2 separate regions of the Homo sapiens genome follow, and region 1 is linked to region 2. Evidence: fine-mapped expression QTL. A gene starts in region 2. The other region holds a variant in brackets. All regions are shown on one strand. Distances are from middle to middle.

What was found. PIP is the estimated chance that this variant, and not a neighbour inherited with it, causes the effect. A credible set is the group of variants that fine-mapping cannot tell apart.
Region 1: its variant is the best candidate, but not a certain one, in a credible set for the expression of ACBD3 in prefrontal cortex (ROSMAP, PIP 0.52).

Annotation. Positions count from the first base shown.
Region 1 is chr1:226,157,812-226,169,597 of GRCh38, forward strand. It overlaps ACBD3 (acyl-CoA binding domain containing 3), which reads right to left. Exons shown (of 8, transcript NM_022735.4): 2 at 8,048-8,189; 3 at 6,978-7,118; 4 at 3,720-3,878; 5 at 1,373-1,547. Among named protein-coding and RNA genes, the nearest start is that of ACBD3-AS1, 16 kb to the left of the region's middle. RefSeq lists an enhancer at 6,042-6,211. The variant T/G (reference allele first, on the strand shown) is at 6,986.
Region 2 is chr1:226,180,605-226,192,390 of GRCh38, forward strand. It overlaps ACBD3 (acyl-CoA binding domain containing 3), which reads right to left and starts at 6,137. Exons shown (of 8, transcript NM_022735.4): 1 at 5,786-6,137. The coding sequence starts at 6,071. LOC101927247 (a long non-coding RNA gene) reads left to right here and starts at 7,292. Exons shown (of 2, transcript XR_001738504.2): 1 at 7,292-7,329. It also overlaps the pseudogene RPL34P7. RefSeq lists enhancers at 1,321-1,821, 1,822-2,322 and silencers at 5,628-6,107, 5,744-6,038.

The DNA of each region.
Region 1 (11,786 bases), 23 kb before region 2:
GGATTAAAGGCATGAGCCACTATGCCCAGCCTCCATTATGGCTTTCTAGTTTTGTTTCAAAGATTTGCGGTTTTGTCCTATTTGACTTTCTTCTCATTAAATGATAGCAACCTATAAACAGGACAGAGTGTATGTGCTATTAAAAATCATCTCACTGCCTATCAAAGAAGCAGGAAAATGGAAGTGAAACTAAAGTAGAAACAGGCTTCAGAGGAGAGAGAATAAATCTCTCAAAAATACCACTTATTATCTTGAATAAACTCTGGTTTGGCATCTTTTCCTCCTCTTCAGGATTACAAAAAACTTGCAGTGCTTTTTAACTTCTAACTGATGCCAAAGACTCAGGAGAAAAGGTTGTTTAGTAAGAATACACATTTTCAAGGAATTTAAAGAGTTTGGCAAAAACAACAAAGATTATTTCATGCAGTAAGAAATGCTGAGCAACTATAATGTAACACTTTTCTTCACTCAGATTTTTTGACAGGTGGTAACTGCTTTATAAGTGAAAATTAAGTAAGTTAAACTAAGCTACGTTAAGTTTAAGGAGGTATTTTATGCCTGCACAAGATGTAAAAAATGAATGTAAAATTAGTGTCTTCTACAAGTACAAAAATCGTTCACAGGGTAACTCTTTTCTCATTTGACTCCTCTGATAGTCCTGTGAGGTTAACAGGACAGGTGCTTTGATTTTATATCCTATTGTTACGGACTGAAAGAAAGAGCAGAACAATCAGAGCAGTAATAACTTGTCTGAGATCAAACAAGGTAATGTCAAAGCCCAAAGAGAATCCAAGTGTTATGAGACTCCCAGTCCCATGTTCTTTCACCTAAACCAACCTCTCCTATGTGGAAGCAAAATACTTGGGGGCAGGCAGTTGGAGGAGGAATAGCAATGTGCTGTTATGAGCACTGCCTAACTATGGTGCCTAACACAAAGTCAAATGGACCCAATCTAGCTCTGCAGAACCAGCCCATGGTCTTAGGGCAGGGGAGTCCTCCCACTGGAGGCTGTCCAAGCCTCTGACAATGCACTGCCTGAAGGACATCTCTGAACTATGGCTAGTTACTCAGGTCCTCATGTTCCAGGACCACTATTAGGGTCTATGCCAGACTCACAGTAAAGACACTCAACCCATACAACTCCCAAATACCCTTATGACAATATAACATCATCGGTTGCTTCGATAACACATATTTTCTCTCACAATTGCCTGTGCAATTCTCAAGTCTGCCTAAAAGATCACCCAAAAGTTACTTTACACCTTAGAGGCTAACTAATGCAAAATTCATTTGCGACTGTTAAAAAAGAACTTGGGTTCCAATGAAACTAAAAACTCTCTCTAAGGCTGAATTCTAGGGTTGTCTATCGTACCTGTTGCTGTGCAAGCTGGACTTGATACAACTGCTGCATGTACTGCTGATAGTGTTGCTCCTGCAACTGGCGGATGAGAATTTGCTGCTGTTCGTAGTTCCCTGGATACTGTTGGGCTGCATACTGCTGGAACTGCACGGCAGTCTGGGAGTTTAAAGCTGCCATTATCTGCTGCCTAAAAACATTAAAAATATATATACTAGTCTGGCTACAGGAGATTGTTCATGACAAAATAAAATGTCCTTATTACTTACTTTTACAGTCTGTAACTCTTAAAAACAACTAAGCTAGTAATGTACACCAATTAGTATGTGTTCTGGGTCCAGAAGAAAGATTTAAGAAAATAAGCCTGGCCTCTAATTTTTTACTTAGGATTTTCCAGGAAAATTCGGGATGGAAGATAAGCATATGATCATCATCATCATGACCACCATCATAATTATTAACATTTATTGTGCCCTTACTATGTGCCATGCAGTGTTGAAAGTACTCACACATACTAACCCATTTAGTCCTCACAACAACCCTCTGACAGAGGGTTCAGTAACTTGCCCAAGACTATACTGCTAGCAGATGCTACAGCCTGATGCAAATCCAGGCAGTTTGGCTCTAGAGCTACACTAATTTACCACGATGCTTTAAGATGATGGATTGTCATCTCTGACATAGATGAGGTATTTAACTGTTGGCTATGGCTTCTGTACCTAAATACATAAAAAACAGTAAGAGGCAGAAGAATAGCTGGAAGATGTTACAGGTGGCCCTGGTAAGTATAAATAAAGCCAGTGAAAAATTAAGGGTCCACAGCATTTAATTTAAAGCCTGTCTTAATAGAGGAAATACTGAAAATATCTTGGCATGCTTAGTTTAGAGATACTCATATTCTTTTATAGATAAACCACATGCTTCTTCTTTTTTTTTTTTTTGAGACGGAGTTTCACTCTGTCACCCATGCTGGAGTGCAGTGGCGTGATCTCAGCTCACTGCAACCTCCACTTCCTAGGTTCAAGCGATTCTCCTGCCTCAGCCTCCCAAGTAGCTGGGATTACAGGCACCTGCTACCACGCCTGGCTAATCTTTATATTTTTAGTAAAGACGGTTTCACCATGTTGGCCAGGCTCGTTTCAAACCCCTGACCTCAATCAAGTGATCCGCCCGCCTCGGCCTCCCAAAGTGCTGGGATTACAGGCATGAGCCACCACAGCCAGCAACCACATGCTTCTTAACTTACTTATGTGACCAACTTAACAGAGACCTCAAAGCCATCTATTAATAGATAACAAAGCAAAGCCTCACAAACTCCTACATACAGCACAACATTCGATCCACCTAGGACAACCTCCCCCAAAAAAGAGCTGCATTCATAGTCTTTCTCCAAAGTTGAATGAGGGCCTGGATTAGTTTGAGGCTAGCACTAAACCTTTTTCTGAGGAACTACCCAGAAATAATGAGAAGAAATCAATGGACTCTCATGTTCTCTGGTTTAACCTACAAGCCATGCCACCCCTACAAACTCAGACTTACTTCCCAGTGTTTTATGGGTGTTAATCACTGCCTCCTTGTACCCACAGCTCCCTCTTGAAGAACCTGTCAGTCTCTGAGTCTCAAAGCCCTTACTGAGTAAGCAATAGTTGAAGCCTCCAAATCTTGTACTAAGGACTATAAATGGATATCTGACATAGACTGGACCAACAAGATTCTCTGTCCTGGGAAACTGCAACTGGGTCTCACAGATTCCAGCCAGTCTCTGTCAGATGCATGGAAACATAGACCAAATAAATCCTCGGACAGCCTTGCATATGCCAAAGCAGACAGTTGACAATTTGCAGAGAGCAAGGATGAAGCAGAGACATAAGCTGAGAGAAGCAGAGACAAGAAACAGAGAGCGCAACCAAGCAACCTCAGCTCCTGCTTCCAATCTCTGGGTTCTGCAAGTGAACCCCCAAACCTTCTAATACATTCCTTTTTTTTTTTGAGACGGAGTTTCACTCATTACCCAGGCTGGAGTGCAATGGCGCGATCTCGGCTCACTGCAACCTCCACCTCCTGGGTTCAAGAGATTCTCCTGCCTCAGCCTCCTGAGTAGGTGGGATTACAGGCATATGCCACTGCGCCCAGCTAATTTTTTGTATTTTTAATAGAAACAGGGTTTCACTGTGTTAGCCAGGATAGTCTCCATCTCCCAACCTCAGGTGATCTCCCAACCTCAGGTGATCTGCCCGCCTCCGCCTCCCAAAGTGCTGGGATTACAGGCGTGAACCACCACACCTGGCCCGCTCATTTCTTATTTTTATTCTATTTTTTTTCCATTTCTCATTTTAAAACATAAGCCACATAATAAACTTACTTTTGCTGCTCCAACCGAAGCCTTTCTTCTTCTATCCGTCTCCTTTCCTCTTCCTCCCGTCGAAGCCTTTCCTCTTCTTCTCTCCTACGTTTCTCTTCCTCCTTTTGCAGACGTTCTCTTTCTTCCTCTTCACGCCGCCTTCGCTCCTCTTCCTCCTTCCTACAAGGCAAAGATAGAGAATGAACCCTATACGTTGAATCCTGTTTAAAAATAAAACTTTAGCTCCCAGGGAAAACTGACATGACCTTTTTAGAGAACAATGTGGATATATACATCAAAATTTAAAATACATACACTTTACTAGCAGAAACTTATAGGGAATCAATCGCACAATATACAAATCACATCAAGAATAATTATTGTTGCACAGCAACAGAAATGTGTCCATCATAAGAAACTACTTAAGTCATTATGATATTCCTATACCCTGAAGGATCCCCTCTAATATATGCTCACAGCACTAAAAGCTTTTCCTTCATAATACCTGCTGTCATTATAATTAAATTTGTGTGATACATTCAGCAATAGATCTGCATTACCCATTAAACTAGATGCTCCATAGGGGAAGAGACTGCCTATCTCACACCACGACATCCTCAGGGCTTAGCACAGTGCTGGAAAGAACAAGCACTCGACAAACGTGTACAGAAGTAAAAAATCCACCCTGAAATATCGCAGAGCCAAAGGATAGAAATACATTGCCTAATATGTAAAGACATGTAATACACTTGCTTAATGAAAAAAAAAAAGGTGAATACAAAGGAAAAGATCTGGAAGGACATACCCTAAATTTATCAGTTATTATCTATGCAGAGGAGAGTGGAATTAAAAGAAATGTGGGAAAAAAGATTTTTTTCAGTTTGTGTTTCATATACTGCCATAAATGAAAATTTTATATTGCATATATTTGTGTATTATTTCTGAAATTAAAATTTTTTGTAAAGCTTTTAATTTAAAAAAGAACGGTTAACCTCTCAGGGCAGCCCTTGCCCAGCTTTCACCCACCCCACAAGACCCTTCCAAAAAGAACAGATCCTATTGTGCTAGGAATGGACATCTTCCGGGTCTGAGAGTGGTATGGTGTTCAGGGAGCCTGCAGACAGGATGAAAGGGAAGATTTCTAAGGAGTATCAGATAAGACACTATTTCATAAACCTACCACGAGAATTGTCTGGGCTACCTCACCTTTCTCCCCTCTAACTCCTATAAGTGATTAACAACTACCTGAGCCACAGCCAAGTCTCAAAATATTGTAATAACATGACCTATTTTTTTTTTTTTTTTGAGACAGGGTCTCACTCTGTCACCCAGACTGGAGTGCAGTGGCACATTCTTGGCTCACTGCAACCTCCGCCTCCCAGGCTCAAATGATCCTCCCACCTTAGCCTCCTGAGTAGCTGGAATTACAGGGACCTGTAACCACATCCGGCTAATTTTTGTATTTTTTTTTTGTAGAGATGGGGTTTTGCCACGTTGCCCAGGCTGGTCCTGAACTCTTGGACTCAAGTGATCTGCCCGCCTCGTTCTCCCCAAGTGCTGAGATTACAGATGTGAGCCACCACAGGCGTGAGCCACTGCACCCGGCCATGACCTACTTTTAATGTGTCACAGCTGGTACAGAGCAAGAAGGTTCACAAGCCAGAGCTTAAGCTTCAGGATAGATGAAGTCTACTCTTAAACACTTTAAAATAATTCTATGTGGACTTTATCCCATGACAAAAGTATATTTTTAAAACGAAAACGCAGCTCTATATGTTGAGTAGTAACTTTTGACAATGCTTAAGAGAAATATGCATATATATCATTAAAATAAGAACTTAAAAAGCAATATATAGATACTTCTACAGACACCCTAGCGATACCTGATTGATCCAACATCACTACACAATGGACTGTAGGACATAAATCAATTTTCCAGTTAAAGAAATCTCATTCTTTTCTCATAAGAATCAAAACCTTTCCTTTAGATTAAAAAAAAAAATTTCTTTGGATAAATATCTTCTGAAAATGTAATCAAGCAATTTCCTATTATCTTAAATAGGAATAAATCATATCTAATGTTCCATCTCTTGATAACTCAGGGGTTACAGCTGTAAACATAAAAATTGTACATCATACTATTGTAATGGAGAAGTTTACCTTCATATTAAATGACCCCTGACTGCCATGCTTTTATAATTCTCGTGTCTATTTTTCATGCTTTCTATTATGTCCCTAATTATCAAGCTATTTTCTCTTCTAATCTGTTATTTCTAATCCAGGTTAAGGTAGGAAACCAGAGAATCAATTGTTTTTAAAGAATAACATCGGCTGGGCAAGGTGGCTCATGCCTGTAATCCCAGCACTTTGGGAGGACCAGGCGGGTGGATCACCTGAGGTCAGGAGTTTGAGACCAGCCTGGCCAACATAGTAAAACCTCATCTCTACTAAAAACACAAAAATTAGCTGGGTTGGTGGCAGGCACCTGTAATCCCTCTCCCAGCTACTCGGGAGGCTGAGGCAGGAGAACTGCTTGAACCCAGGAGGCAGAGGATTGTGTCACTGCACTCCGGCCTGAGCAATAGCAACAGAGCAAGACTCCATCTTAAAAAAAAAAAAAAAAAAAAAAAAAAAGTATAACATAACCTGAAGAAAAATTGGTTTTGTAGCATCATTTTCATCACCTAAAATTTTAGATAGTCAAAATTGATGAAAATATAGCCACTAGAAAAATAAGGTGTAACTATAATTCTAATTCACAACTACAACAGAGAATCCCATAAGCATAAACAGCACATTCAGTAGCTCCTCCTCCAAAACTTGAAAATAATCAATAAGCCAGCTGGAAGCCAAAGCCAACATGAATGTCTATATAAGGTAGCATAGTTGCAAACCATGAAATGGAGCATGAGGATTCTAGAAGCTCGAGGGAGACTGCAACAAAGGGTATGTCAGACCAGAGGATAGGGAGGAGGGAGTGGTTGAGTTTATGGTGGGGCTTATTCAGAAACTTAGTGTAATAAAACAAAAGGAAGGCTGCCATGATGGATGGGAGGTTCCTTTTAAAGGCACGGCCAGTAGGAAGCAGTCCTCCCTCCCCCCAAAACTTATAATACAAGTACCTGTTCACATCAGGAAGTTTGAACAATTGCCACAAGAAATGGGGATCCAAGGAAAGCAAGACACCTGATCTAGAACTAGAACAGACACTCTACAAAACAAAAGCATCAGTACACTGGGCTGCGCAGCAATAAAGTATTCCATGCCCTCAAACTTCACCTTTTTTT[T/G]TCTTGCTCTTCCTTCTCTATTTTGTGGGACGCAACATATGTTGAAAAGAGATGGCAACACCTATTTAAGAGCTTGACAAACTCCACCATGGCATCCTCTTTAGACATGTTTCCCAGGGCTGCCCATTCTCTCCTGTAAGGAATAACAAGAAAAGTTACCTCCCCTTCTTAGTAGAATGAGAACTTTTAAATTTAAACCTAAATATGAATAATTCTCAATTGTAAGTAAAATGAATGATTCTATTGGGAGCAAAAGGCTCAAAACTTCAAGTTTTAACAAGTATGTATTGATTTACTAAATTAGATACGCCACATACAATCCAAACAACTGCATTGCTGATGATTCCCATATAGCAAAAGAGTATCAATTTTTCTTTTTTCTTTTTTTTTTTGAGATAGGATCTCACTCTGTTGCCCAGACTGGAGTGCACTGGTGCGATCTTGGCTCAGCAGAACCTCTGCCTCCCAGGCTCAAGCGATTCTCCTGCTTCAGCCTCCCGAGTAGGTAGGATTACAGGCATGTGCCACTACCGCCGGCTAATTTTTTAATTTTTAGTAGAGATGGGGTTTTACTATGTTGGCCAGGCTGGTCTTGAACTCCTGACCTCAAATGATCTACCCACCTCGGCCTCCCAAAGTGCCGGGATTACAGGCATGAACTGCCGCACCTGGCCTATTTTTCTTATATAATATTTGAGCCTTAATTAAACAAAAATACTCAATGTATTCTTTTTTTGTCACAATTTTTTTTATGCCTCAATAAGGGAATCAATTACTATATATTTTAAATGGCTACTTTTAATATTATTTGGGAAGAATCAAATGAAGCTCTACTTGTCTTATGTTCATAAGCAGATGAATACAGTTCTTCCACAATATTTAACCATAAACATCTCTAAGCTAAAAACAGATAAATATCTGAAGACTCCAGAAGCTGCAAGCAAAAATGTTCAGTTCTTATCCTAAGCTAATGAACCAGCTACTTACACCTTAACCAATACACATTGTACCCTTTGCCAACATTATCCTCATTAAATTCACTATACAGAAAAACACTGTTACCTCCTGTCATTCCCCAACACATCAAAGAATCCAACCTCAGGACAAGTGTCTGGATTATATGGGCCCATAAGAACTTGCTTATGCAGTGCCACAAGCTTCAATTTTTCTTCATAAGTTGGATGAAATGCTTTGCCATCTTTTTCTATAAGAAAAAGAAACACAAAGAAAACAATTAGCACAGGCAAAATACATAATTTTCAGCATTATATACTAAAGCTTTGCTACAAAGCATGTCACAAACTGCCTGTAATAGACACAAACACTAATAGTGAAATTTTTATTTCAATTACTACTTTTAAAAAATTTTTTTATTTTTAGACAGAGTCTCACTCTGTTGCCCAGGCTGGAGTGCAATGGTGTGATGAAGGCTCACTGAAGCCTTGACCTCCGGGACTCAAATGACCCTCCCACCTCAGCCCCCCAAGTAGCTGGACTACACGTGCGTGCCACCAAACCTGTCTTTTGGCAGAGACAGGGCTGCCCAGGCTGGTCTCGAACTTTTGGGCTCAAGCAAGCCTCTCGTCTTGGCCTCCTTTTCAAAACTGCTGGGATTTGAGCCAGCATGCCCAGCCCAATTACTACATTTTATTAATAACAGAACCTAAGACGGAAATCCGGTATGCTGATTTTTTTTTTTTTTTTTTTGAGACAAGGTCTCGCTCTATTGCCCAGGCTGGAATGCAGTGGCACAATCACAGCTCACTGCAGCCTCAACCTGCTGAGCTTAAGTGATCCTCCCACCTCAGTCACCCAACTACCTGGGACTACAGGAGTATGCGCCATCATACGTGGAAAATGTTTTTATTTTTGTAGAGACAAGGTCTCACTATGTTGCCCAGGCTGGTCTCGGACTCCTGAGCTCAAGTGATTCTCCCGTCTCAGTATCCCAAAGTGCTGGCATTACAAGTGTGGACCACCATGCCTACCCTGAATTAGGTTGTAAAAATAAGCCAACTATCAATACTTATGCTAAAGCTACTACAGAAAAACCCATCTGTCAAGCTGCAGTCAGGCTACAGCCTTGACCTCCCAGGCTTAAGCAATCCTTCTGCCTCAGCCTCCCGAGAAGCTGGGACTACAGGCATGTGCCACCACATCTGGTTAATTTTTTACTTTTTGCAGAGACGATGTCTTACAATGTTGCCCAGACTGGTCTTGAACCCTGGGTTCAAGCAATCCTCCTGCCTCAGCCTCCCAAAGTGCTGGGATTACAGGTGTGAGCCACCATGCCCAGCCCAACAATCGGTTTTTAAAATAGCTTTTAAAAATAATTTTTAGCCAAAAGAGAAAAGAAAAACTTAAAATAATTTTACATTAGTCCCTTTTAACATGATCATGCATAGAAGATTATGTACACTTTGAAAGGCTGTATTCAAAAATGTATCCATCCCACTAAGGTAGTATAATGTGGTGGAAAAGGCTTTGGAATTGGATGGCCTGGGTTTAAATCTCAGCTGAGACACTTCCTAGCTATGTGACTATTTAACCTCTCAGTTTATTCATCAATAAAGAAAGGGTTACCCTTCAGAGGTTGCTACTTCAGAGGTAATAGGATTATTATTATTACTAACTTATTAATGCTTTTCTTTCCTTCACCTGATTGGCTCTGGTAGGTTTCCATATAGGCAATTAAGAGTGCGACCAGTTTGACCAATAAAGACTAACTGCTACCAACATTTAAAAGCCGTATGAAATTGGGTTCTGGTAAAATGGGAAATATTCAGAGAACAGTTCCACTTCTTTGATAAATGGTAGCACTAACTACTGGTTGATTCCAATGACAACAGACTACCAAATTTAAAGAAAACGGGGAGGGCACTTGAAAGTAGCATATGCTACTTATATGTCTCATTCATGTATATAGTGGTGAAATAAAATCACTAATAAGTGAGAAGAATATGGGTTAAAGAACAGCAGGAAACTCAGAGAAGAAAAAATATAGAAGCTGCCAATAAACATCCAAAAAGATATTCAACCCCACTAGTCAAGAAATATAAATTAAAAGCATTAGATACCAAGACCCCCACCTCCCATCAGATAAACAAAAAAGTTAGATAACATCTAAAGTTATTAAGATCCTACAAACAGGTACCCATTCTCATATATGAATGCTGAAAGTATAAACTGTTATAGTTACCTTGAAGGTCAATTTGGCAATACACAATAGTCCTTATCTTATCCCCCAGTGGATGTTTAAGACTGCAGATAATATTGAACCCTACATATATTATGTTTTTCCTAAATGTACATACCTGTAATTTATAAATTAGATACAATAAGAGATTAACAATAAAATACTGTATTATATTTGTATATTGTAATTATATAACAATATACAACAACAAGTTATGTGAATGTGGGATCTCTGTCTCTCTCAAAATATCTGAATGTATTCTACTCACCTATTTTCAGACCTTGATTAACCCCGGGTATCTGAAAGAAGGGAAAGCAAAACCATGGACAAGGAGAGACTCCTGTATTTCAAAACTATAAATGTGTATGCCCTATGATCCAGTCATTCCAGTTCTCATTACATATGCTTGACAAGCACTCTCAAATATATAAAAGGAGGCAGATACAAGGACATTCATTGCAGCACTATTTTCTTGTTACTGGAAATAACTTAAAAGGTTATCAATAAGGGAAAGTCGAAACAACATGGTACAGTCATGCTCTGCATAATGGCATTTCAGTAAAGGACAGATTGTTTATATGAGTGTAGTCCCATAAGATTATTATAATGGAGCTGAAATTTTCCTATGGCCTAGTGGTGTGGTAGCCACCATAACATGATGCAACATATAACTCAAGTATTTACGATGATGCTGGCGTTAAACTAACCTACTGTGCTGCCAGCTGTATAAAAGTATATATAGCACATACAACACATAATACTTGATGACATTAATCATCAAATACTTGATAAGGATATTAATCACCAAAAGTTTTCTTACACTACGTCACAGGTAATTATTAGAGAAACACAGCCCAGAACAACTTCCTTCTCACTTTTTATTTGAGACGGAGTCTCGCTCTGTTGCCCAGGCTGGAGTGCAGTGAGTGGCACAATCTCGACTCACTGCAGCTTCCGTCTCTTGGGTTCAAGTGATTCTCCTGCCTCAGCCTCCCAAGTAGCTAGGACTACAGGTGTGCGCCACCATACCCGGCTAGTTTTTATATTTTTAGCAGAGATGGGGTTTCACCATGTTAGCCAGGCTGGTCTCCAACTTCTGACCTCAGGTGATCCACCCATCTCAGCCTCCCAAAGTATTGAGATTACAGGCGTGAGCCACTGTGCCCACCCCCTTCTCGCTTTTAACAAATGGCGATAATTTGAAAAATAGCTCCAGCTCCTGATCTTAGCCTTGTGATTTAGAGAGTTTTTTTTTATTTTTATTTTTTTTCTCGAGACAGAGTCTCGCTCTGTCACCCAGGCTGGAGTGCCGTGGTGCGATCTCGGCTCACTGCAAGCTCTGCCTCCCGGGTTCACGCCATTCTCCTGCCTCAGCCTCCCGAGTAGCTGGGACTACAAGCGCCCGCCACCATGCTCGGCTAATTTTTTTTGTATTTTTAGTAGAGACGGGGTTTCACTGTGTTAGCCAGGATGGTCTCGATCTCCTGACCTCGTGATCTGCCCGCCTCGGCCTCCCAAAGTGCTGGGATTACAGGCATGAGCCACCGCGCCTGGACTGCCTGGCTATTTTTTTTTTTTTTTTTTTTTTTTGGGATTTTTAGTAGA
Region 2 (11,786 bases):
TGAAAACTCATCAAGCTACACACTTAGTATTTGTGTACTTTAGTGCACTGCATGTGTGATAAAGGGAAGCCTCGGGAAAATGTTAAAATCACTTACATTAAAAACATATACACACTGGGCACAGTGGCTCACGCCTGTAATTCTAGCACTTTGGGAGGCCAAGGCAGGTGGATTACCTGAGGTCAGGAGCTCGAGACCAGCCTGACTAACATGGTGAAACCCTGTCTGTACTAAAAATACAAAAATTAGCTGGGCGTAGTGGCATGTGCCTGTAATCCCAGCTACTCGGGAGGCTGAGGCAGGAGAATTGCTTGAACCCAGGAGGCAGAGGCTGCAGTGAGCTGAGATCGCGCCATTGCACTCCAGCCTCGGTGACAGAATGAGACTCCATCTCAAAAAAAAAAAAAAAAACAATGACAACAACAACACATACACATTCCTGAATCCAGTCAAAGGAAAGTTTTGGTTCAGCTCAAATTTAACATGAACTTGGTGGCTATAATTGTTTTTCTGTCTTACATCTGTCTCTCTTAGGTCTATATATCCTCCTACAGTATTACATACTTATGTCTAAAGGTAAAGATAATAAAAGGGAAAAAGAACTCTAATAGATGTTCCATAGTAACAAACTTGAAATTATCTGAGGATAGACCACTGAAGTCCAGGAGGCACACTAATTATATATGTTTCCAATGAATAAATTACAGCTGTACAGTATTTTAAAACATTAAGGAAGCCATTTATAAATGCTCTTGTAGTTGCCTATGTTTAAAGAAGACAAGAGGAAATGGAACCATTTCAGTTGTCCATTTGTTTGCTATCATTAATATAATTCTCTCCCAACATATAATACTCTACTATCAGTAACACAATTGGGTATAATCAATAGCAATGCTAGTAGAACTATTCCATAAAGAAAATGAGTCCAAGACTTACCTTCCAAATAACTGAGGGGCCTGAGGCAGGATCCTTAACTCAGAAATGGGATTAATACCCTTACAGAAGGCCTCTTGGAGGATTAAACAAAATAATGTACATACAGTTTTTGGCATAGTACCTGAGATTTAGTAAACATCTACTCAATAACTATTGACAATTATTACTCTGAAATCTTAAATTAATGTAAACAATCTACCAGCTTAATGTAATACAGTAATAAAGTATTAGAGAAGGAAAAGTCCACCCCAAAGAACTCTAAAAACCAAAATACAATTCCCCAGGTCAACTCCATCCAAGAAGTATAAAGGTCATAATAAAATGAACCCACTGGATTCCTGTGGGTCCTTAACCCATGGAGATAAGAAAACCTAGCTTAACATTGTTAAAATAGAACTGGGCAACTCTGGCCGGGCGTGGTAGCTCATGCCTGTAATCCCAGCACTTTGAGAGGCCAAGGCGGGTGAATCGCTTGAGCTCAGGAGCTAAAGACCAGCTGGGCAACAAAGCAAGACCTCTGTCTCTACAAAAAATACAAAAATTAGCCGGGCATGGTGGCTCGTGCCTGTGGTCCCAGTCACACAGGAGGATGAGGTGGGAGGATGGCTTGAGCCTGGGAGGCATAGGGGGCAGTGAGCCAAGATCGCACTACTGCCCTCTAGCCTGCATAACAAAACCAGACTGTCTAAAAAAAAAAAAAGAATTGAGCAACTTTGCTCCTCCCTTTAAAAACCTCCAGTGGTTCCTCATCTTCTAATTTACTGACAAAAAGGCCGAACTATTAATACTTACATGGCCAGGCGCGGTGGTTCACGCCTGTAATCCCAGCGCTTTGGAAGGCCGAGGCGGGGAGATCATTTGGGGTCAGTCCAAGACCAGACTGGCCAACATGGTGAAACCCCATCTCTATTAATAATACAAAAATTAGCTGGGTGTGGTGGCACAAGCCTGTAAGCTCAGCTACTCACGAGGCTGAGGCAGGAGAATCACATGAACCCAGGAGGCAGAGGTTGCAGGGAGTGGAGATCATGCCACTGCATTCCAGCCTGGGTGACATAGCAAGACTCCGTCTCAGAAAAAAAAAATGACAATGGCATGCAAGTCCTTCCAAGAATTGAACTCAGTTACCTTCCCAGCTCTCTCCATCAAACTGCTTTCTATTTTCCATTTTGCAAACAGACATGCTTTGACTTCTCATGGCTTTCATGGCTCTTGGCCTTCCCCCCTCTGGAATGGCATCTGCTCCCTCAGTCCTCCACACTGTACTGCAGTTGTCACTGGGTCCTTAACTCCTCTTTTGGACTCTAAGCAAAAGATAACGTACTATTCATTTATAGTTGTAACCTAATATAAAACTATCCATACTGAAAAGTCAATAATGTCTGAAATTTAGATGGTAAAATGCTAACTTACATTTACCCACATCTTCATCTATTTTACTTTTACTGTCATAAAAAATTAAGAATAGTTGACGTAATTGATTCAGTCACTGGCCTATTACCACCCTGACAAGGATGGAATAAGAAATAGGGCTTGTCATTTCCAACCCAAGCTATTTGCAATGGAAAAATATATCCATGCTTTCAAGATTCGTATTTATTCCACAGTGGAAGAGAAAATGTAATGTTCTTTCCTTTATTTATTTATTTTTTTGAGATGGAGTCTTGCTCTGTTGCCCAGGCTGGAGGGCAGGGACGAAATCTTGGCTCACTGCAAGCTCCGCCTTGAGGGTTCAAGTGATTCTCCTGCCTCAGCCTCCCAAGTAGCTGGGACTATAGGCGCCTGCCACCACGCCCAGCTAATTTTTTTATTTTTTTATTTTTAGTACAGATGAGGTTTCACCGTGTTAGCCAGGGTGGTCTCGATCTCCTGACCTTGTGATCCACCCGCCTCGGCCTCCCAAAGTGCTGGGATTACAGGCAAAAGCTACCACACCCGGCCGAAAATGTAATGTTATTTCTAATTCTCGTGAGATACTGGTATAAAACCATAGAATAGCGATTAAAAGTCCCAGCAAGACTGACAAAACACCATGTGTTCCACCAGAAAAATCCACACATTAAAACAAAGGTGCCGGGCACGGTGGCTCACGCCTATAATCCCAACACTTTGGGAGGCCAAGGTGGGCAGATCACCTGAGGTCGGCAGTTCGAGACCAGCATGGAGAAACCCCGTCTCTACTAGAAATACAAAAGTACCTGGGCGTGGTGGCACATGCCTGTAATCTCAGCTACTCGGGAGGCAGAGGCAGGAGAATCACTTGAACCCTCGAGGCAGAGGTTGCAGTGAGCTGAGATCGCGCCATTGCACTCTAGCCTGAGCAACAAGAATCAAACTCTGCCTAAAAAAAAAAAAAAAAAAAAAAACCAGGCTGGGCACAGTGGCTCACACCTGTAATCCCAGCACTTTGGGAGGCTGACGCAGGAGGATCACGAGGTCAGGAAATCGAGACCATCCTGGCTAACACGGTGAAACCTCGTCTCTACGAAAAATACAAAAAATTAGCCGGGCGTGGTGGTGGGCACCTGTAGTCCCAGCTACTCGGGAGGCTGAGGCAGGAGAATGGAGTGAATCCGGGAGGTGGAGCTTGCAGTGAGCCCCGAGATGGCACCACTGCACTCCAGCCTGGGCGACAGAGTGAGACTCTATCTCAAAAACAAAAAACAAAACAAAGGCAGCATTACTTGGCTCACTCCACATTCCATAATTCTTCTGACTGCTTTTACATCCTTCCCTTTTGTCAGTTAGTGTCTCATATACTAACAGTCTCCAATGACACATGCAGAAAGGTAGCTTTTAATTGCTACACAGCTATTTCTCCTTTTTAGTACCTGGATATTGCTTTGAGAACTTCATTTAGGAAGTGAGTGAACCACACCTATCAGTGTAGCTTTATTCTCTAAGGTGACTAACACCTAGGCCCCAAGTTATAAGTTTCCCCAGGATTCCTACCACTCAAGACACATGTTAAAATAATCTGTTAGGTTAAGACCACTGAATCTTAAATCTGAGACATCATATTTTATAGAATCCAGCTCCCTTTATACATATGAAACTGATTCTGGAAAAGTTAATTGTCTAGTTTACAAGGTAACTAGAATCCAGAGCTTCCTGACTCTCCAAACAATGTTAAGTATACTACACGTTACAGTGTTTTAATCTTTTTCTTTGTTTTGAGACAGAATTTCACTTTGTCGCCCAGGATGGAGTGCAGTGGCATGATCTCGGCTCACTGCAACCTCTGCCTCCCATATTGAAGCGATTCTTTTTTTTTTTTTAGACGGAGTTTTGCTCGTCGCCCAGGCTGGAGTACAATGGTGCCATCTTGGCTCACTGCAACCTCCGCCTCCCGGGTTCAAGTGATTCTCCTGCCTCAGCCTCCCTCAGTCCTGCAACAGAGCAGGACTCCAGCTCAAAAAAAAAAAAAAAAAGGAATTAGTTCATTTCTACTCTTACTCTCTGCTACAATATACTTTACTGAAAAATAAGTTCCAAGAATAAAAATTTAAGATGGAATGTAGCTATATGAATTGTACAGAAACCACCTGATTTTTATCAAGTGGTAATATATCATCACTACAGCAAACTCTAAATTCAAGCCGGTGATCTAAAAGTCAAATGATCCAAAACCCATTAGCCATTACCAATTCCCCAAGCTAGTTAGTACACAGAGGGCTCAACTCATTGTGCAATGACCACGAATATGTCATTGAATGTGAAATGATCAAATGTTCTGGAAAATTTATAAAACTTTCACTAGTTTGCACAATTAAAGTTATTTTGAGAGAAAACAACTTCCGTGTGTATCATTACATTGAACTACTCAACTTTGGCTAGTAAAATATGTACTCCAAAAGGTACTCCCTCTGGGGAAAGTGTCATAAATATGCTGCTCTGGAATGTACGTGGAACCTAGCAACCACTTTTAAAGTTGCATTTGCTGATGTCCCTCCCTGTCCATTCGCCCTACAAGACTAAGTATCTTTAAGAATCAAACTAACGGGCTTTCATCAGTTTTTCCCACTGACAAAAATCATGTGATTGGTCTCTCCACCATTCGACTAAGTGAATCACCCAATTAAAAAAAAAAAAAACCGCACACTACAATCTTGCTCTAAGACAAGAGACATTTAACAATTAATTATGCGAAAAGCACAGAAGGTACTGTTAGGCCTTACTCTGAGAATTCACTCTTGCACATTGCTTACAATGTAAAATTTTAACCACCTAGAAGTTACTAGAACATAGTGGACATCTCTCCTCAAGAGTTTGACAAGCCGGAGAGGATGATGAGCTTAACACTTTACTTCCTCCTCTCTGCCACATCAATCTGCCGGGGGATCAAGTCCTGTTCCAGTTTATGGTTCCCAAGAATGGCTGGAAAAGCTATGTATGGAACCTCTTGACAGATTTCTTCCACTAAGGGTAAAAATCGGCGGGTTCTGATGTGACAAGCCATGGGAAATAGGAAAAGAAAAGCGTCAGTTAAAAAAATAATAATAATAAAAGGCAATCCCAGAATGGGATCCTTTGGAAGAAAGTGGGCTCATTCTTCCACCAGGGCTCCTGGAAATCCCAGAAGCTAAATCAGGTAAAATGTCCCGGTAACCTCTGGGAGGCGGGACATGACTGCTAAACCAAGGTTGCAGGCCCGTCAGGGGTGTGACCTAGTGGCCAAGCGGGTAGTGACAAACTTCGGGTACCCCCAAGGAGGGAACCCCGCTTGAGTCACCACAGCCCAGTATGAGTGGGTGAGGGCAAGTCTGGTCCAGTCACCCTGGGGACCACAGCCCACGCCGGGCTCCCGGGGCCGGGCAGAAGCGGCGGGGGTGGGGCTGGCCCGGCTCACCTTTGAAGAAGCGCAGTGCCAGGCCGTACAACTCCTCCAGGCCGAAACCCCAGCGCTGCTCCAGCCGCCGCGCCTCCTCCGCCGCGCCCCCAGCCGCCGCCTCCCCGGGCTCGGGCTGCTCCCCTGAGGCGCCCGGGCCGCGACCGGATCCAGGTGGCGAGGGCGGTGGCAGCGGTGGCGGCAGCAGCGGGGCGCCCTCCGCCCCAGGCCGCTCCTCCGGGTCCGGGCTGAGCGTGAGGCCGTCGACGGACACCTCGAGTCGCTCTGCGTTCAGCACCGCCGCCATCTCCGGCTGCTGCACCTCCTCAGCGGGGACAGACGGCAGCCACGTATCGACTTCCTGCTGACCTCTGACCTCCGCTTACCGACACCGGAACTTCCGCTGCTGAGGAGGCTGGAGGGCTCCGGGAGAGGGGCTGAGGCCTGGCGCCCCACCCCCTCCGGAATCGTCAGTTGCCCTGGCTCAGCGACCACCCTTCAGGCTCCCCAACTCCCGTTGGTCCCGAACTCCCCTCCCCCGCACCCCATCCTTTCGGATCCCAGTTGCTCCAGGTGGGCGGGTGCTACCACCCCCACCGCTCGGTTCGGTGCTGCGGCTGTCAGTGCCCAGCAGGGGCGGGGTCAGTGGAGCCCCGCGCGGGGGTCGGAGTAGGGAGGATTGACGAGGTCGGCCAGCACCCAACCCTCCAGGTCAGAGGCCCTTCACATTTGCAGGGGCCTGCGTGGTTGGCAGAGCTCTTTTGCCCACCACCATCTCGTTTGGCCTTCACAGCAACTCTAAGGAAATGCAGGGCAAATTCCCAATTTTTTTAAAAGGGGAAACTGAGACTGCAGAGAAATTCAGTGACTTTGAGGTTGCAGACGGGGCTGATCCTGGTTTTGCAGGAAGCGCAGCTCATACAATTTGTGGGGACCCTCATTAGGAAAGAGTACAAAAAGTTACGCGCAGAAGGGTAGGAAAGTGAATGTATATTTAGAAAGAGAAAGAAAAAACAAATGATATTTTAAAAGTTAATAAAACCCACAAACATCACACACATAACCGTAATATTTTCATTGACTGCCTGATATTCTTCTACAGGGCGTCTGAGAGCCCAGAAACCTATTTTTTTCTAAAAGATTGAAGTCGCCCCCGACATTATGTATATTCACCTGTGTTTCCAGACTTTGGGAGCACCATTTATGATCATTTTTCCCACCTTTGTTTTGGCTGCGTACTTCTGATTGCCTTTTCCTATAACAATTATTTTGTAACTTTTTTTTTTTTTTTTTTTTTTTGTTTTTTGCAGACAGTCCTGCTGTGCCACCCAGGCTGGAGTGTAGTGGTGCAATTCGGTTCACTGCAACCTCTGCCTCCCGGGTTCAAGCAACTCTCCTGCCTCAGCCTCCCAAGTAGTTGGGATTACAGGTGCTCACCACCACGCCCGGCTAATTTTTGTAAACTTAGTAGAGTCAGAGTTTCCCCATGTTGGCCAGGCTGGTCTCAAACTCCTGACCTCATGTGATCTGCCCGCCTCAGCCTCCCCAAAGTGCTGGGATTACAGGTGAGAGCCACCGCGCCCGGCGTATTTTGTAATTCTCTATAAAGAAAAGAGAAAGATCAGTCTTTTCTCCAGCATGGCTGATTAAATTTGTTTCTTAATAATTGTTTATAAATTTATTTCAGCATCACAACTCATTACTGATATTGTTAACGTACTTTTTTAGGGTTATTGTTCAGTTTGGGAAACCTCTCTCAAGTTTCATGGATGTGCTATGAGATTTTTATGGCCGTTTGGCTGCTTCAGTGACAATTTTGTGTGTGGTTTTTACTGAAGCCCTAGAGAGTTTTTTTCTTTTTTTTGAGACGGAGTCTCTCTCTGTCGCCCACGCTGGAGTGCAGTGGCGCGATCTTGGCTCACTGCAAGCTCCGCCTCCAGGGTTCACGCCATTCTCCTGCCTCAGCCTCCTGAGTAGCTGGGACTATAGGTGCCCACCACCATGCCCGGCTAATTTTTTTGTATTTTTAGTAGAGACGAGGTTTCACCGTGTTAGCCAGGATGGTCTCAATCTCCTGACCTTGTGATATGCCCGCCTCGGCCTCCCAAAGTGCTGGGATTACAGGCGTGAGCCACCGCGCCTGGCCGAGGGTTTTTTTCAGGACAAGATTTGTATGCTGCATTCAGACAGGATCTCATTCATTACGGTGGATAAGACATATAACTTCACATACAGACAGACTCACTGTAGTACAACTATAAGTTTTTGTCCCATAAACATAGGGTTTCTAATCTATTCCCTTTTGCATGCTTCACATAAAAACATGAAGTATGGTGCAGTTATAATTGCAGATATGACTTAGATTCTCAGTGAGTGAGAACCTTCATTTTGATTAGGCATTGAGAGAATTGATCCCTCTCCTTATAATCTTCCACTTCTGATGGTTGGAAGCATATTTTTAAGTCTTTTAATTTTAATTACTCAAAGAAGCTTCATTTTTTATTTAGCTTTCTGACCCTGTGCTTGTGCCTTCAACACTCTCACAATGATTTTCTTTTCCTCGATAAGGAAAACATGCTTGATCCTGTCACAAACACATATAGCACACATGGAACCACCATAGGCCCTGCTGACATGGTTTTTTGTGTTTTGGACAATCTCATAAGACTTCGGGTCTTATAGCACGAACCCCTTGAAGTCTGCGTGGGTACACACCACAGTAGATTTTGGTGCTTTCCCAGCCTTCTTGGTATAAAGGTAAGCAATTATATTACCAGGGGTTCAGGACAGCCTAGTTTTATTAGAAGCTGTATTGTAGGAAAGCCTACAACAGTATGTCAAACGCTGGACCATTCTATGTGCCTATAGACAACATCCCCAGAAGAGGAAAAAGAATGGAAGAATTTTACTAGCTCTTTCTTTTCTTTCAAACCTTGTTGCTCCTCCACTACCCAAGTACTTCCTGTGTCAGGCAACATAGGGTTCCTTCGCCCTTTGGCCTTGCACTTTTGTGACATGGTGCTGGCTGAATTGACATAATGGGCAGTAGGTATATTCCAGAAAGCCATTCCTACACCCATGGTGAGCAATAATTTAAAAACATGCAGAAGTGACTGCAAACCACTTAAATGCATGCCACTGACCCCAAATTAAATGTATCCCTATTCATTGTCCCCTTAGCCAAATCCCCCACAAAGCCTATAGCCATTTCAATACCTCCTAACCAGAGGAGGATGACGAAGGGAAGTTAGAAACGAAGACAGAGGTCTTAAATATCTTACTCTCAAAACTGTTACAGAAGTGTATACTGCTAAGGCCGCTCTAAGGGCCTTGGGAGGGGCCTGTGTAAGCAAGGGGCCCTGAAGCTTGAGCTTCATTAACTTTATGGTAAACCCACTTCTAGTTGTAGAGGACTAAAAACTCTAATTCTACTGCTCTAAGGTCTGTGTTCTTCCCACTTAGCTTGGATCTTTATATTTAGCTTCATTAGCTTAAAAATATGCATATTATGTGCCTAACCTTCAAAATGTTATATATACATATATATTCCCCTGTGTTTTGCTCAGTGTTCTACCTTTAACATTCAATAACTGTTGGGATGATAATGAGTAGGGTAAATATAACCCTTCTTCATGAAATGCTAGATTCTGTTTTCCAAGTTTTCACGATAAGCATTTCTTTTGTAATCAGAAAAAAAGTTATTTTTTTAAAAAGTATACAATAATTATTAAAACCTATAGAATATACCTAGGAAGGTAGGTAAAATATGGTAATTAATTAATTACATGGACTTTTTATACAAAAATTAGCTGGGCGTGGTGGTAGGCACTTGTAATCCCAGCTGCTCAGGAGGCTGAGGCAGGAGAATTGCTTGAACCTGAGAGGTGGATGTTGCAGTGAGCCAAGATCACACCACTGCGCTCCAGCCTAGGTGATGGAGAGAGACTGTCTCAAAAAAAGACATACATTAAAAAAAATTATATGGACTTTTTTATTGTTTTGTAATTTAACATATTGAATATGGTTGGAAAACCCAAACATCCTCTAGACCAAGCATCTGAACCTCTTGCTAATCGAAACATCAAGGGCCATTGTGTAGGTGGTTGCCCTTAATGACTAAAAACATTAGGGGTTGGCACAGTGCGTCATGCCTGTAATCCCAGCACTTTGGGAGGCTGAGGCAGGAGGATTGTTCGAGCCCAGGAGTTTGAGAACAGCCTGGGCAGCATAGGAAGACCCTGTCTCTACAAAAAATAAAAAATTAGCTGGGCATGGTGGCATGTGCCTAGGGTCCAGCTACTTGGGAGGCTGAGGTGGAAGGATCACTTGAGCCTGGGAGGTCAAGGCTCCAGTAAACCATGATGGCGTCACTGCATTCCAGCCTGGGCGACAGAAGGAGACCCTGTTTCTAAAAAATAAAATTAAAAAATTAGAGAATATAACTTCGCTTTAACAGTTCACTGTGGGAGATGAGTTCCAGACACGCTCACCTGAATGTCTTATTAAACTGCAGATTCTGACTCAGTAGGTATAGAGGGAGGCCTGAGAGTATACATTTCTCATAAGCTTTCTGGTGATGCCGATGCTGCTGTCTACAGACCACACTTTGAATAGCAAGTCTAGGAAACGTGTTTTTCCCATGCTTTATTGAGTATAATTGTTGTATAATAAACTGCAAATATTAAAGTTTACAATATGATGAGTTTTGGCACAGGCATATACCTGTATAACCATTACCATAAAATAACAAACATCCATTACTGTTTTGTAATTCCTTCTTCCCCCAAGATTTTTCAATAGATCTTTGTTATAATGCACTTGTCACAGTAGAATCTAACTTACATAAACAGTTCAGCGCAACTATCTGTTTTTCTTTTCCTTTTTTTTTGAGACGGAGTCTCGTTCTGTCGCCCAGGCTGGAGTGCAGTGGCGCGATCTTGGCTCACTGCAAGCTCCGCCTCCCGGGTTCACGCCATTCTCCTGCCTCAGTCTCCTGAGTAGCTGGGACTACAGGCTCCTGCCACCACACCTGGCTAATTTTTTTGTATTTTTAGTAGAGACGGGGTTTCACCGTGTTAGCCAGGATGGTCTCAATCTCCTGACCTCGTGATGCGCCTGCCTTGGCCTCCCCAAGTGCTGGGATTACAGGCGTGAGCCACCGTGCCCGGCCAACTACCTGTTTTTCTATATCCCTGTCTTTTATATGTGAGGAGGCACACAGATTGATCAAAAAGGTGTATTTTTGAAAACTTTCAAATATCTTCTCCATGTCTGTTCTTTTATAAAAGAGGATACTTTTGGGTGTTCTGCCTATGGTGTACCCATTCTTTTATTCCTTTACTTTCTTAATAAACTTGCTTTCATTTAAAAAAAAAAAAAAGGATACTTTTTTTTTTTTTTTTGAGATGGAATCTCACTCTGTTGCCCAGGCCGGAGTGCAGTGGCGCGATCTCGGCTCACTGCAACCTCCGCCTCCTGGGTTCAAGCAATTCTCCTGACTCAGCCTCCTGAGTAGCTGGGATTACAAGAATGCACCACCAGCCAGGCGCGGTAGCTCACGCCTGTAATCCCAGCACTTTGGGAGGCCGAGGCGGGCAGATCGCGAGGTCAGGAGATCGAGACCATCCTGGCTAACACAGTGAAACCTCGTCTCTACTAAAAATACAAAAAATTAGCTGTGCGTGGTGGCGGGCGCCTGTAGTCCCAGCTACTCGGGAGGCTGAGGCAGGAGAATGGCTCGATCCCAGGAGGCGGAACTTGCAGTGAGCCGAGATCGCGCCACTGCACTCCAGCCTGGGTGACAGAGCAAGACTCCATCTCAAAAAAAAAAAAAAAAAAAAAAAGAAGAATGCACCACCATGCCCAGCTAATTTTTGTATTTTTAGTAGAGATGGGGTTTCACCATGTTGCCCAGGCTGGTCTCGAACCTCTGATCTCAGGTGATCTGCCTGCCTTGGCCTCCCAAAGTGCTGGGATTCCAGGCATGAGCCACCGCGCCCAGCCAAAAAAGGATACTTTCCAA